Homo sapiens: one gene and its partners. The protein of the gene in region 2 purifies or fractionates together with the protein of the main gene of each other region. This does not show direct contact. Each region holds a gene or a part of one and is shown on either strand. Other genes may lie near its edges.

Region 1 (3,500 bases), on a different chromosome or scaffold from region 2:
AAGCCACTCAAACTGTTTTTAGGAAATGACAATGAATCTAATTCAGAGTAATTTGCTGGAAACAAATTTATACCTGTCATACCTCTGATTTCTACCAAACCAGATTTAGTTTTAATATCCCATAATTATCAATACACATTACAAAACGAAACATCATGACTTTGTTAGTTTACACAATTAAAGCTAGCAGTAAAAGAACTGTATATATTAAATAATATTACTTTATTAAAAAAATTTAACTTATAGCAATCTTCAACCTATTTTGCCTTCAAAAGGTAGATTATGGCTACTACTGCAAGACGATTCACACTTTACCCTATTAACACTTATAAACACTTCAATCCCTGAACAAGATCTTTTTCAAGACTGATAAATCTTAGGAACTCAAAATACAATTAATGTACATAAAGCACATAAGAAATTACTTACACCCTGCTGCCACTGGTTGTAGCCCTGAGATTGATTTTTGTAGCCACGATTGTTTCCTCGTCCTCTGAAGTTCTACAAAAAGGAAATACTCTCTAAGAGCTCTGAGCCCAATTGCTTGTTAGGTTTGTGGGGGTGAGAGAGAGGAGCAGAAATGGACAGGTTGCTAGCCCCTAATCTTAGGTAGCAAGCAATACACAAATTCTGGATACCCTCTGCTGGTTTCTTATGTTTTAATTTTTTATTCATTATGAGAAATGCATCTGACTTGTTTAGTACACCTGAAAAAACTCAAAAGTAAGTAGACTCATTTCACCATTACTAGTTCAATTTTCCTTATGTCAATGCCTATCATGTTCCTTACGGATTACTAAGACACCCCAACATAAAGCTCACACCTTTCCAGACTAAGCTACAGTTATCAATCATGCTTCCAGGGATCTTGAATCATTACCTGGTTGTAGTTCCCTCTGTTGGGCATTCCACCTCTGTTGTAGTTCCCTCTGTTTGAGTAACTACCACGGCCAGGAAAAACAGGGGCACGAGGGTATGGATAGCCGATTCCACCACTTCCTCCACCGCCACCACCTCTCTGTGGCATGTTGCCCCTCCTATTATATCCGCCACGATTCCCAGGGGCTAAAAGACAAGAGCTGTTTTAGTTTCATTGTATATTGTACCCTACTTATACAGAAGACTTAGGATTCCTCTAGATTGTTCCTTTTTCTCCAAAAATAATTGTTTAAAGACAAAAGAAATGTTTAATTCTAACCATTAACATAACCTAGGTGTATTTAATATCAAATCACATGAATACTTTAGTTACTGTGACAGTATACCATTAATGAGGAAGAAACTTCAGCTACATCCAAACTATAAAATTATCACTTGTTTCGATCCTGAACTAAATACAGAACACTCAAAATTAACTTGCCTCCTCCTCTGAAATTTCCACCACGCATATTGAATCCTCCACGTCCTCTATGGCCACCACCTCTGTTAAACTGGTTCTTGCCACTCTTATTTTTATTGCTTTTCTTTGAGCCAGTGTTCTGTTTCTTTTCTGGTGGAAGAGCCTTTTTGCTTTCTTCCTTATATTGCTCCAAGAGTTTTTGGGCTTCTTCCTTCTGAAGTTCAACATAGGTTATTTCATCAAAGCACTCAGCTACCTCTGGGAGGGTAAAGTTTCCTGCAGGAAACAAAGTCATATTATTAATTTAGAAACCCACCACGAATCCTCACAATCCTAAAGCTGACAATTCTTGAGGTTTAGTAACATATTTTCCTAAAAATAAAAACAGACCAAACATATATGCATATGTAACAACTGCAATTTTAATTCCTGAAGCAGTATTGCTGGAAAAAATGTTAACTTTCAGGAGGCCTAAGTCCTAATAGATTTAACATAGTTACACAAGCAGAATATGTAGGAAAAACATTCTTTTAAAAAGAAGATTTCACACAGTAACAGAATTAAAATTCCATGCCTTTCATTTTGAGGACCGCATGTTCTGGTAGGTCTTTCCCCTCTACTTCTGCTTTCTTCTGTGTTCTTTGCTTATAGTCTTCATCTTTTGGGCAAACTACAACAGCTTTTCGCTGGAAGCCTGCAAACAGGCACATTTTTCTCCTCTGGGCAGCAGCAGACACATTTGTCTTTAAAAAAAGAAATTTATGTTTACAACCCTAAACATTAATTCTACACCAATCTATCTAAATTATCAGTTAATATTTTTCAATTTCAAAGCTACAGCGTACCTGATCCAGAATAAAATTTCGCTTCTTTCGGGCAGCAATCTCAATAAATTTCCCAAGACACTGGGGGGCTCTCTGCAACAGTGTGTTCAGTTTTCCAGTATCTGCCATTTGCTTCTTAAAACCTGCCACCTATATTCAAAAGTTAAAATTTCCCCTTGAACTTGTGAATTTTAATAAGTTATGCTTTTTAAAATTCAACTCATATCTATATGTAAAGCAGGCAACATTTTATAATTTAAATATTACCTTTGTCCATTATTGCTACAAAAACAGGGTCACTTAAACTATGTAACAAGACCTTACACTTACTCAATTCTTTTTAGCTGCTAGATGTTAAGAGCTCAAAAACACTACGGAAAAAAACAGAAGCCTAGCCAGTGGAAGGCAGTTTACCCTCAGAGTTGAAAGAACCAACTTAATCTTGCCTTTCCTCCCATCTCTTTAAGATACTAACAAAATGGATAGAGACAAAGACAAAAAGTTTACCTAGAATACCTCCCGGTCTATAATTTTTCTTTTCTTTTTTTTTTTTTTCTGAGACGGAGTGTTGCTCTGTCGCCCAGACTGGAGTACAATGGCACGATCTCAACTCACTGCAACCTCTGCCTCCCAGGTTCAAGTAATTGTCCCTGCCTCAACCTCCCGAGCAGCTGGGATTACAGGAACCCACTACCACACCCAGCTAATTTTTAAATTTTTAGTAGGAACGGGGCTTCGCCATGTTGGCCAGGTGGGTCTCAAACTCCTGACCTCAGGTGATCCATCCACCTCAGCCTCTCAAAATGCTGAGATTACAGGCGTGAACCACCATGCCCAGCCTCTCCCAGTCTATTTTAAACACTGAGATCAGGCCCTAAACATTTTACTTACCATCATCTTATCCATAATAGTATTTGTGCCAAGAATGTTATATTTCCCTGGATTTTCTGCTGCATGTTTAGTAACCCAGGTAGTTTTTCCAGCTCCTGGCAAGCCAATCATCATCACAACCTAGTGAAAAGAAAAGAAATGTCATTTCACTGTCAGTAGACACCACCTAATAATTCTTTAAATATTGTTAAGGCCAATTTAAATATCTAAGTTTTCATAGCCCTTACACTAACGGACAAAAATTTGTTTATGGAAAGATTAACAGTCAACATAAGGGGGAAACAATTACTTAAGAGCAATATGCACAGCACAAAGTAAATGAAACAGACTAATCATCTAGTTCTTCTAAATGTCATTTTGTGCCAGGCAAGCAATATTCAAATGCCACAGTTAAAAAAAAAAAAATCCCTTACTTCACAATCTTTCTTCTCTTCAGGCCCCTTTGG
Region 2 (3,497 bases):
ATAAAGTTTTTAAACAAGCAGATCTGTGAACTTCAAATACTTTGGCAAAGAAATTCTAGCTACTTCTCTTAGGTGATCTACTTTAACTCCAAAATCTAGCCTTTACATATTCATCTGTATTGTCAATTAAGGATATACACTTCAAGATGTGCATATCACAAATCCGTTATACTAATTTTTAAAACCCAAACCTTCAACACACTGCCCCCGCATCCCCCAAGAATTAATCTATTACTGGAGAGGAAACTTCTCATATATCCTTATTTTTCCATTTCTCTATTGTAAATGTTAGTCACACAATCACCTGTTAAGAGCCCACAAATGCTCAATCACACTTACGCATATTTGCTTTGTCTTTTGACATAGCTGCCACAGCATCTTCATGAGTTGCGAACTCGACATCTGCTTCACCAGTTACTCTGCCATCAGGACCAATTTCAATGTGTACTCTCACAGGGTTGAGCGGTGAAAAAAACTACAACACAAGGCATTTCAAAGAATTCAACCAACTTTCTAACGTTACAAAAAAAACCTAAAATTTCTAACATAGTGCTCACATTTATAGAATAAGGCTGACTTACTGCCATACTGAAATATTGACTTGTGAGTTCATCTCACACTTACATTATAAATGTCATTCTCAGTAGCTCTGTAAGGTAATCCCCGCATGTGTACACAGTGTCCTGTTGTGCTCTGGAAAGTAGAGCCACCATCCCCGTATCTGTGATCAGACATTCCTGAAAAACAGTAATTGAGGTCTAGATGGACAAGAGTGTAAGCATCCTTCAACTGAGAAATTCAATTCTTACCTTACCTCTTCCAAATCTATCTGACCCAAATCCATAGCCATCATTATAGCCATTGTAATCATCATAGCCTCCATAGCCTGAAAGACAAAGTACAATCAATCAAATAAAACACCTAGACAAAGGAACAGACGACTTGCCGAACCTTACGAATCCTCACGTACCTCCACCATAAGCACCACGCCTCATCCTCTCAAAGCCAGCTCCTCTGCCAATGCTGTTATACCCTCTACCAGCCCCAGGTCTGTCATAAGGACCTGGCCGCTGCATGGCCATAAGCTTTCGTGGTGGATCATAATGAGTTCTAACTTCAGCTCTACTGCTCTTAAAGATTTCAATATACCTAAAGCATTGTTCATAAGGAAGGGGTAGGGAGGGGAGAGAAAACATTAGTTCATTTTATACAGGTATTTAGTTATACAAGAAAACAATCTAGTCATAGCCATGAAACTGACTAATATTTAAAGCCAGATTTCTTATATTTGCATAGGCAATGACCAGAAATTCACTCAATAAATAGTAAGACAATGTAAACTTTATAGAAAAAAAAAAAAAACTCACTCCTCTGAGGCAGAGCCCAACCTTAGGGGTAGAGAGGAGTACTGTAAATAAATGTTTTAGGAGGGAAATAATTCCACTCAACTTTCAACATTTCAAGTCTTAAATCCATTGGCAGCATGTATAGCAAGTGGGCTAAAAAGCCAGCCTCCACCAACAGTCCAGCCCACACTACACATTTCCTTTCGCCAATAAATACCCCAGCCTATGCTTTTAGTAAGAATCAGCATAGGTAAGCGCATGCTTCAATGAAAAATAGTCACAAGCAAAGAGAATAAAACCTTTTGTGACAATTTCTTGAAAGCTATGCTTATTAATACTATGCAGAATATTTATATACAGCAAGAAAAAGTTTGTTGCATTTCAACTTTAAAAACAAGATCAGAAAGTATCACATTTTCTTATGGTAATATTAATTTATTCTAGGTGGGTGTTATTACAGCTAAAGCCAGGTTTGCATTAATTTTTTAAAGCCATAGTCTCTCAACTCTATTGATTGGGGTTAATAAGACTCACAAAATTGTCAAGCAGACCAATTAACTAGGGACAAATTTCAAACCTAAAATTTAGTTTGCGTGTAACGTGGGACTGACACAAGTTTGGAAATCATGGCAAAACATCAATTACCTAGGACTACAAAACATTAATTTCTTCTTTTAAGCAGAGAGAATATGGATTTAATTGTTTACCATAAGAAAAGTGACATATCCAACCAACCATCCATCCCCACCTGTGCCCTATTCTTTCCTTGTGTTTCTTTAGAGCCTTTTCAGCTATTTCCTGTGAAGCAAACTGCACGAAGGCCTCCCCCGTACTCCTCCCCTGGAAGTCCACCGGCAATGTTATCCCATTTGGCACGATTTCCAACCCTTCAACCCAAGGACAAATAACCCCAGTAGGGGGGCAATATTAACATCACAAGCCCAGAAATGATTCTTCTTATAGCTTTAAATAAACCAGAATTTTTAACTTTAGGTGAATGGTATGCTTTCAACAAGTACTCTTTAAATATGCATTGCAATAATATGAAGTTCCATTATTATAAAGTATAACTATTCTTAACACACCCATGGTACAGTATATATTAAAAAAAACTTGCTGAACACAGGATGCATTAAGAATTCAACAACTTAAGAACACATATCTATGCAACTTAATGTTGAGAATTATACAATTCAATTAAGTTTTAAGCATTAAATAACAGTTTTACTAAATTCAAAACACCTTTTACCTCATTTTATATTTCAATGCTTTAAGTTATTGGAACTTCAAGTTTTTAAAAAGGTATACATTTACAACATTTCATATAAAAACTGAAACATTAAATTATAATTGACAAACACAACAATCTAAACTTTCAACAAAACTGATCTACACAGCACAATCATGCATGCTTATGCTCTAACAGTAGTTATGATTCACTTCTGGAAATTCCGTCTATGAAAAATCCTTTCCGTGGATACATTCCCAAGCTTACAAAAAGGACTTAAAGCACTTTCCTAGAAGATATGAAATTATGTTCATATTTAACGTTGACAGCATTCAATTCTCACCAATTTAGTGTCAAAACAAAACAGACTTGATTTTAAAAATTCTGACATTAGGACTCGATACATATATCAATTTTTAACATACTACACTAAACCATGAAAGGATTTCCTGCTTCCAGCGTATCACATCATAAATATTAATACTTAAAATATACGATATCTTATCTAACATTGTTAAACATGCAATCTTATCAGCTCTTCAGCATAAAAACATTCAAATACTTTAGGCCCAGGAACAATTTCAAAACACTTATTTCAGATACTGAGACTACAAGCATTCAAACTACTCTCACTACATCTGATTTTCAGTAAGTTTATACCACACAGGTTAAACCAAGTCTTTCATAAACCGACTTTTGCATTAAAGAGAATTAGACCATTAGATGCTTCTGGTCACATGACCCAAATACGTGTCTCTTGCAACACAGACACTTGCCATAATTTACAACAACCTAATTCATCGCACTGATGATCTGCTGGTAAAGGGATCTTACCTTTAACTTGAGGTACTTAGCTGGACACCAATGTGAGGAAAGTAGTTAAGCTGTTGAGGGCAATCCTCAATGAAAGATCTACTCTGAAC
Region 3 (3,353 bases), on a different chromosome or scaffold from region 2:
CCTCCGCCTCCCGGGTTCGAGCAATTCTCCTGCCTCAGCCTCCTGAGTAGCTGGGATTACAGGTAACCGCCATCATGCCCCACTAATTTTTTATTTTAGTAGAGACGGGGTTTCATCATGTTGGCCAGGATGGTCTCCAACTCCTGACCTCAGGTGATCTGCCTGCCTCAGCCTCCCAAAGTGCTGGGATTACAGGCGTGAGCCACCGCACCCGACCAACTCTGCAATTCTTTAAGCCACCCTGTGTTTCTCATATCAGCAAATCACTTGTCTAAAAATCACTAGAAACATGCAAGATCTGTTTTCTTCAAAAGCCTATCCCCCTCCATAAATATTTTCTCAGTCCTTTTTAAGTCCTCCAAATGCTTTCTTGGTCACCCCATCTGAAAATTCCACTAGCAAGCTGATAAACTATTTCCAAATTACAGAGGGAGAGAGCAAAGTTCAGAATAAACCTAAGTTCTTCAATTCCCAGGAAGCTGCATGTGGAATAGCAACAAGCTAAGTAAACTAAACAGCAACAATACCATGTTTTGAATATCCCCTAAATTTTCCAGCAATGGAAAAAAAAGAACTAACAATGGAGTTCTGGATCCAGTTTTCGAAGATTGGGTGGCACTGTTGTAATGAGAATCTTCACTGTAGCATCAGAAGAACTGATTTCAAAGCCAGTTTCGTTGGTCAGCATGGTTAAAACTGAAAAAACAGAATAAACAAAAACTATAACTCACATTTCCATTAGATGATCAAAGTTAAATCCAGGGTGGGGGGGAACAGGTGGATTTTTTAAAACAGCACAAAGTCCAGAATGAGAATTTAGAATACAGAGCTTTAGAAGGGAGATCAAACAGATCTCCCTTGAACACCTTGAACACCTGAAGCCCCTGCCAAAAACTCCCACAACATAAAACTCTGCATTTACTCTTCCATCTGGTCTGATCTGATTTTGTTGAAAGTGTACTTACAATTACAAGACCTGGTTCCTATGGCTACTAAATACAGAATCAGCAACAAATGCAAACCTTCAGAAGGATCCTGTGCTCTTAGGCTTTCCACGACTTTGTTCCCCAGGGCAGCAACAGCTTCCACTAATTGACAGAAAATGACATAATGTTATAATAATTTATTTGCCTAGACTTTCTATGTATCTCTAAGCTACTTTGCACTCTCATTTCTGTCCCATATCCAAGGCTGAAGCAAGGGTAAGTAATAGAATATATACTTTTATAAGAGAAAGCCAAGGCCTGGGCAGAAAAATTGGAAGACTCAGGGAACAGGACCCCTCCTGTACTCATATCCTCTTTCTACAGCAGGGTTTTTCAGGTCAGTGGCAGTTAATAACATTTTGGGCTAGACAAATCTTTGGGGTGATGGGGATGTAGGATGTTTAACAGCATCCACGGCCTCTATCCTTTTTCTTTTTTTGAGAAAGGGTCTCACTCTTGTCACCCAGGCTGCAGTGCAGTGGCACAATCACAGCTCACTGCAGCCTCAGCCTCCCGGGCTCAAGCAATCCTCTCACCTCAGGCTGCTGCTTTTTTTTTCTTTTTTTCTTATTTTTGAGACAGGGCCTCACTCTGTCACCCAAGCTGAAGTGCACTGGCACGATCTCTGCTAACTCCAACCTCTGCCTCCCAGGTTCAAGCAACTCTCCTGCCTCAGCCTCCCAAGTAGTGGGGATTACAGACGCCCACCACCACGCCTGGCTAATTTTTATATTTTTGGTAGAGACTGGGTTTTGCCACGTTGGCCAGGCTGGTCTTGAACTCCAGGCCTTGGCCTCCCTAAGTGTTGGGATTACAGGCGTGAGCCACTGCACCCGGCCCCACCTCAGGCTTCTGAGTAGCTGGGACCAAAGCATGCACCACCATGCCCAGCTAATTTTTTTCTTTTTGTAGGTACAGGATCTCTCTATGTTATACAGGCTGGTCAAACTCCTGGGGTCAAGTGATCCTCTTGCCTCAGCCTCCCAAAGTGCTGGGAATACAGCCACCACACCTGGCTTCTACCCTTTTTTGATGCCAGTAGCACCCCCTTGTTTTAACAATCAAAAGTACCGCCAGATACTGCCAGATATCCCCTGGGTGGCAAAATTACCTCCAGTTGAGAAACATGGCCGTACAGTAACCTGCTATACATTCTTTCAGACACACACACTCCAGCGTTTGTCCCTTATCACTCATTAAAAAACATTTGTCAGGCAGGGTGCAGTGGCTCACGCCTGTAATCCCAACACTTTGGGAGGCCAAGGCGGGCGGATCACCTGAGGTCAGGAGTTTGAGACCAGACTAGCTAACATGGTGAAACCCCGTCTCTACTAAAAATAGAAAAATTAGCCTGGCATGGTGGCACTTGCCTGTAATCCCAGCTACTTGGGAGGCCAAGGCAGGAAAACAGCTAGAACCCAGGAGGTGGAGGTTGCAGTGAACCGAGATCACGCCATTACACTCCAGCCAGGGCAACAGAGTGAGATCCGTCTCAAAAACAAAAACTAGAAACATTTGTCTTACAAACATCCTTTCTCACAAGAAATTTGAGCTTTCAAGATCCGTAAGGGCTGGGCACAGTGGCTCACGCCTGTAATCCCAGCACTTTGGGAGGCTGAGGTGGGCAGATTGCTTGAGCTCAGGAGTTTGAGACCAGCCCGAGCAACACGGTGAAACCCTGTATCTACAAAAAATACAAAAATTAGCTGGGTGTGGTAGCACACATCTGTAGTCCCAGCTACTCGGGAGGCTAAGGCGGGAAGATCACTTGCTGTAGTGGAGGTCAAGGCTGCAGTGAGCTACAATGGTACCACTGCACTCCAGCCTGGCCAACGGAGGGAGAATTTGTCTCAAAACAAAAAAAGATACCTAAACCCCTAATCCAAGTGCTATGTTCTGTTCCCATGACCAGAAACAGGCACACTCACACGTTGGCAGAATCTTGAGTATCACCACCAGGTCAGCCACATTGTGTCCTGTAGTCATTGTCCCCTTTTTATAGGATCCCACCTGTCGAACTTCTTCAATTTGCTGTTGGAAAAAGGATTTCGGGGAAAAACAATTTAGAAGAAAAAAAGGTGCCTAGGTCCTCCCAGAACTGTTACAACACAGCTACCTGTTACCCAAATTAAGAAGTAGCAGAGGTGAAATCACCCCCAAAACCACCACATGAAAGCCTGATACATCACAGCTAGCATAACAATGATACAAGTCTTGTCCCCAAGATCAGTACTACAAAGAAATTCCACTGTACTTTCTCATTTTAGGCTTGGCTTTGGATAATAGACAACTGAAAATTAAAAGTCAAGAGCCAAGGCAATTTCCACACTACCAAAGCTGCCCTTTCCTAAAACTAAATCATCAAAA
Region 4 (2,437 bases), on a different chromosome or scaffold from region 2:
TGCCTCCCTCTGACATCAGGGAGGCCGGAAGGTACATTTTCAAAAGGCCTCACAATAACGGAGGAAAGACTGGGGAAAGATAATGGATTTCCGAGCACATAGTGCTTTGGTGATGCCAGGTCCCAGGAGAGAAGGCAATCAGCCTAAAACAGCCATGCTCTTAATACTGGAACAACAGTAACAGTGATAAGCAATAAAGTGATAGTTCAGAGCAAGGGGTCTAAAGCCAGACTGTCTGATTTCAAATCCGTGTTTTGTCAATTACCAAACATCGGACTGGGCCGGGCACGGTAGCTCACCCTTGTAAACCTAGCACTTTGGGAGGCCAAGGTGGGTGGACTGCTTGAGCTCAGGAGTTCAAGGCCAGCCTGAACAATGTCGCAAACCCTGTCTCTACAAAAAATTCAAAAAATTTAGCTGGGTGCAGTGGCATGCACCTGTAATCCCAGCTACTCAAGAGGCTGAGGTGGGAGGATCGCTTGAACCTGGGAGGTGGAGGCTGCAGTGAGCCAAGATCGTGCCATTGCACAGAGTGAGACCCTGTCTCCAAAAAAAAAAAAAAAAAAAAAAAAAAAAGTGTGATTGAGCTGAAATTTACTTAACTAGTTCCATAACATAAATATAGAATTACCATATGACCCAGCAATCCCAGTCCTAAACATATACCCAAAAGAACTGAAAACAGCTGTTCAAATAAAACAAGGATACTCACAGCAGCACTATTTACAATCACCAAAAGGTAGACACAACATCAAATGTCCATCAATGGATGAATGGAAAAACAAAATGTGGTATATGCATATGATGGAATTATTCAGCCATAAAAAGGAATGCAGTGCTGATACATGCTACGGCATGGATGCACCTTGAAAATACGCTAAGTGGAAGAAGCCAGACACAAAAGGCCACATATTGTTATGATTCCCTTTACAGGCAACTCACATTTGCCTATCCAGAACAGATAAACCCACAGAGACAGAAAGCAAATTAGTGGTTGCCAAGAGCTCAGAGAAGGAAGGAATGGAGAATGACTACTTGGTGAGCACAGGGTTTCCTTTTAGGGTGATGAAAAGATTCTGGAACTAGGTAGTGGTGATGGTTGCACAACACTGCCATTGTGCTAAAAGGCTACTGAATTATATGCGTTAAAATGGTTACATGGTAAATTTAGGTTATGCATCTTTTACCACAATTTTTAAATTGTTTTTATTTAACTGTTCTGTGCCTCAACTTCCACATCTGTAAAATGAAGATAGGGTTGTTGTGAGAGTTAAAAGAAAAAAAAAGGCCAGGCACGGTGGCTCATGCCTGTAATCCCAGCACTTTGGGAGGCCGAGGTGGGCGGATCACCTGAGGTCAGGAGTTTGAGACCAGCCTGGCCAACATGGTGAAAGCCCCTCTCCACTAAAAATACAAAAATTAGGCCGGGAGCAGTGGCTCACGCCTGTAATCCCAGCACTTTGGGTGGCCAAGGAGGGCAGATCACGAGGTCAGGAGATCGAGACCATCCTAACAAGGTAAAATCCTATCTCTACTAAAAACACAAAAAATTAGCCAGGCGTGGTGGCGGGTGCCTGTGGTCCCAGCTACTCGGGAGGCTGAGGCAGGAGAATGGTGTGAACCCAGGGGGCAGAGTTTGCAGTGAGCCGAGATAGTGCCACTGCCTGGGAGACAGAGCGAGACTCCGTCTCAAAAAATAAATAAATAAATAAATAAATAAATACAAAAATTAGCCAGGCGATATGGTGCACGCCTGTAATCCCAGCTACTCAGGAGGCTGAGGCACGAGAATCACTTGAACCCGGGAGACAGAGGTTGCAGTGAGCCAAGATTGCGACACTGCACTCCAGCCTGGGTGACAGAGTGAGACTCCATCTCAAAAAAAAAAAAGAAAAAGAAAAAAAGGGGCCAAGCGTGGTAGCTCACACCTGTAATCCCAGCACTCTGAGAGGCTGAGGCAGATGGATCAGGTGAGGTCAGGAGTTCGAGACCAGCCTGGCTAACATGGTGAAACCCCATCTCTACTAAAAATACAAAAATTAGCTGGGCATGGTGGCATATGCCTGTAATCCAGCTACTTGGGAGGCTGAGGTAGGAGAATGCTTGAATCCAGGAGGCAGAGGTTGCAGTGAGCCAAGATTGTGCCATTGCACTCCAGCCTGGGCAACAAGAGCAAAACTCCCTCTCAAAAAAAAAAAAAAACGGCAGGGGGCTGGGCACAGTGGCTCATGCCTTTGTAATCCCAGCACTTTGGGAGCGTGGGCTCACAGTAATCCCAGCACTTTGGGAGGCCTAGGTGGGCAGATCACTTGAGATCAGGAGTTCGAGACCAGCCTGGCCAACATAGTAAAACCCCATAGCTACTAAAAATACAAAAGTTAGCTGGGTGTGGTGGCGCGTGCCTGTAGTTCCAGCTACTCGGGAGGCTGAGGCAGGA

Evidence for each region.
Region 1: the proteins of HNRNPH1 (region 2) and HNRNPU purify together in Homo sapiens (affinity purification with mass spectrometry; 4 studies listed by BioGRID and IntAct, with this or other methods). This does not show direct contact.
Region 3: the proteins of HNRNPH1 (region 2) and ILF2 fractionate together in Homo sapiens (co-fractionation; 3 studies listed by BioGRID and IntAct, with this or other methods). This does not show direct contact.
Region 4: the proteins of HNRNPH1 (region 2) and COPRS purify together in Homo sapiens (co-immunoprecipitation; 3 studies listed by BioGRID and IntAct, with this or other methods). This does not show direct contact.

What each region holds. Positions count from the first base shown.
Region 1 is NC_000001.11:244,854,544-244,858,043, forward strand, and holds part of HNRNPU (heterogeneous nuclear ribonucleoprotein U), read right to left. Parts: coding exon 3,468-3,500; intron 3,175-3,467; coding exon 3,055-3,174; intron 2,314-3,054; coding exon 2,185-2,313; intron 2,083-2,184; coding exon 1,914-2,082; intron 1,616-1,913; coding exon 1,361-1,615; intron 1,066-1,360; coding exon 881-1,065; intron 502-880; coding exon 430-501; intron 1-429. UniProt on the Homo sapiens protein: DNA- and RNA-binding protein involved in several cellular processes such as nuclear chromatin organization, telomere-length regulation, transcription, mRNA alternative splicing and stability, Xist-mediated transcriptional silencing and mitotic cell progression.
Region 2 is NC_000005.10:179,617,175-179,620,671, forward strand, and holds part of HNRNPH1 (heterogeneous nuclear ribonucleoprotein H), read right to left. Parts: intron 2,234-3,497; coding exon 2,095-2,233; intron 1,150-2,094; coding exon 971-1,149; intron 887-970; coding exon 815-886; intron 759-814; coding exon 625-758; intron 476-624; coding exon 340-475; intron 1-339. UniProt on the Homo sapiens protein: This protein is a component of the heterogeneous nuclear ribonucleoprotein (hnRNP) complexes which provide the substrate for the processing events that pre-mRNAs undergo before becoming functional, translatable mRNAs in the cytoplasm.
Region 3 is NC_000001.11:153,664,641-153,667,993, forward strand, and holds part of ILF2 (interleukin enhancer-binding factor 2), read right to left. Parts: intron 3,018-3,353; coding exon 2,915-3,017; intron 1,089-2,914; coding exon 1,023-1,088; intron 697-1,022; coding exon 580-696; intron 1-579. UniProt on the Homo sapiens protein: Chromatin-interacting protein that forms a stable heterodimer with interleukin enhancer-binding factor 3/ILF3 and plays a role in several biological processes including transcription, innate immunity or cell growth.
Region 4 is NC_000017.11:31,853,808-31,856,244, forward strand, and holds part of COPRS (coordinator of PRMT5 and differentiation stimulator), read right to left. Parts: intron 1-2,437. UniProt on the Homo sapiens protein: Histone-binding protein required for histone H4 methyltransferase activity of PRMT5.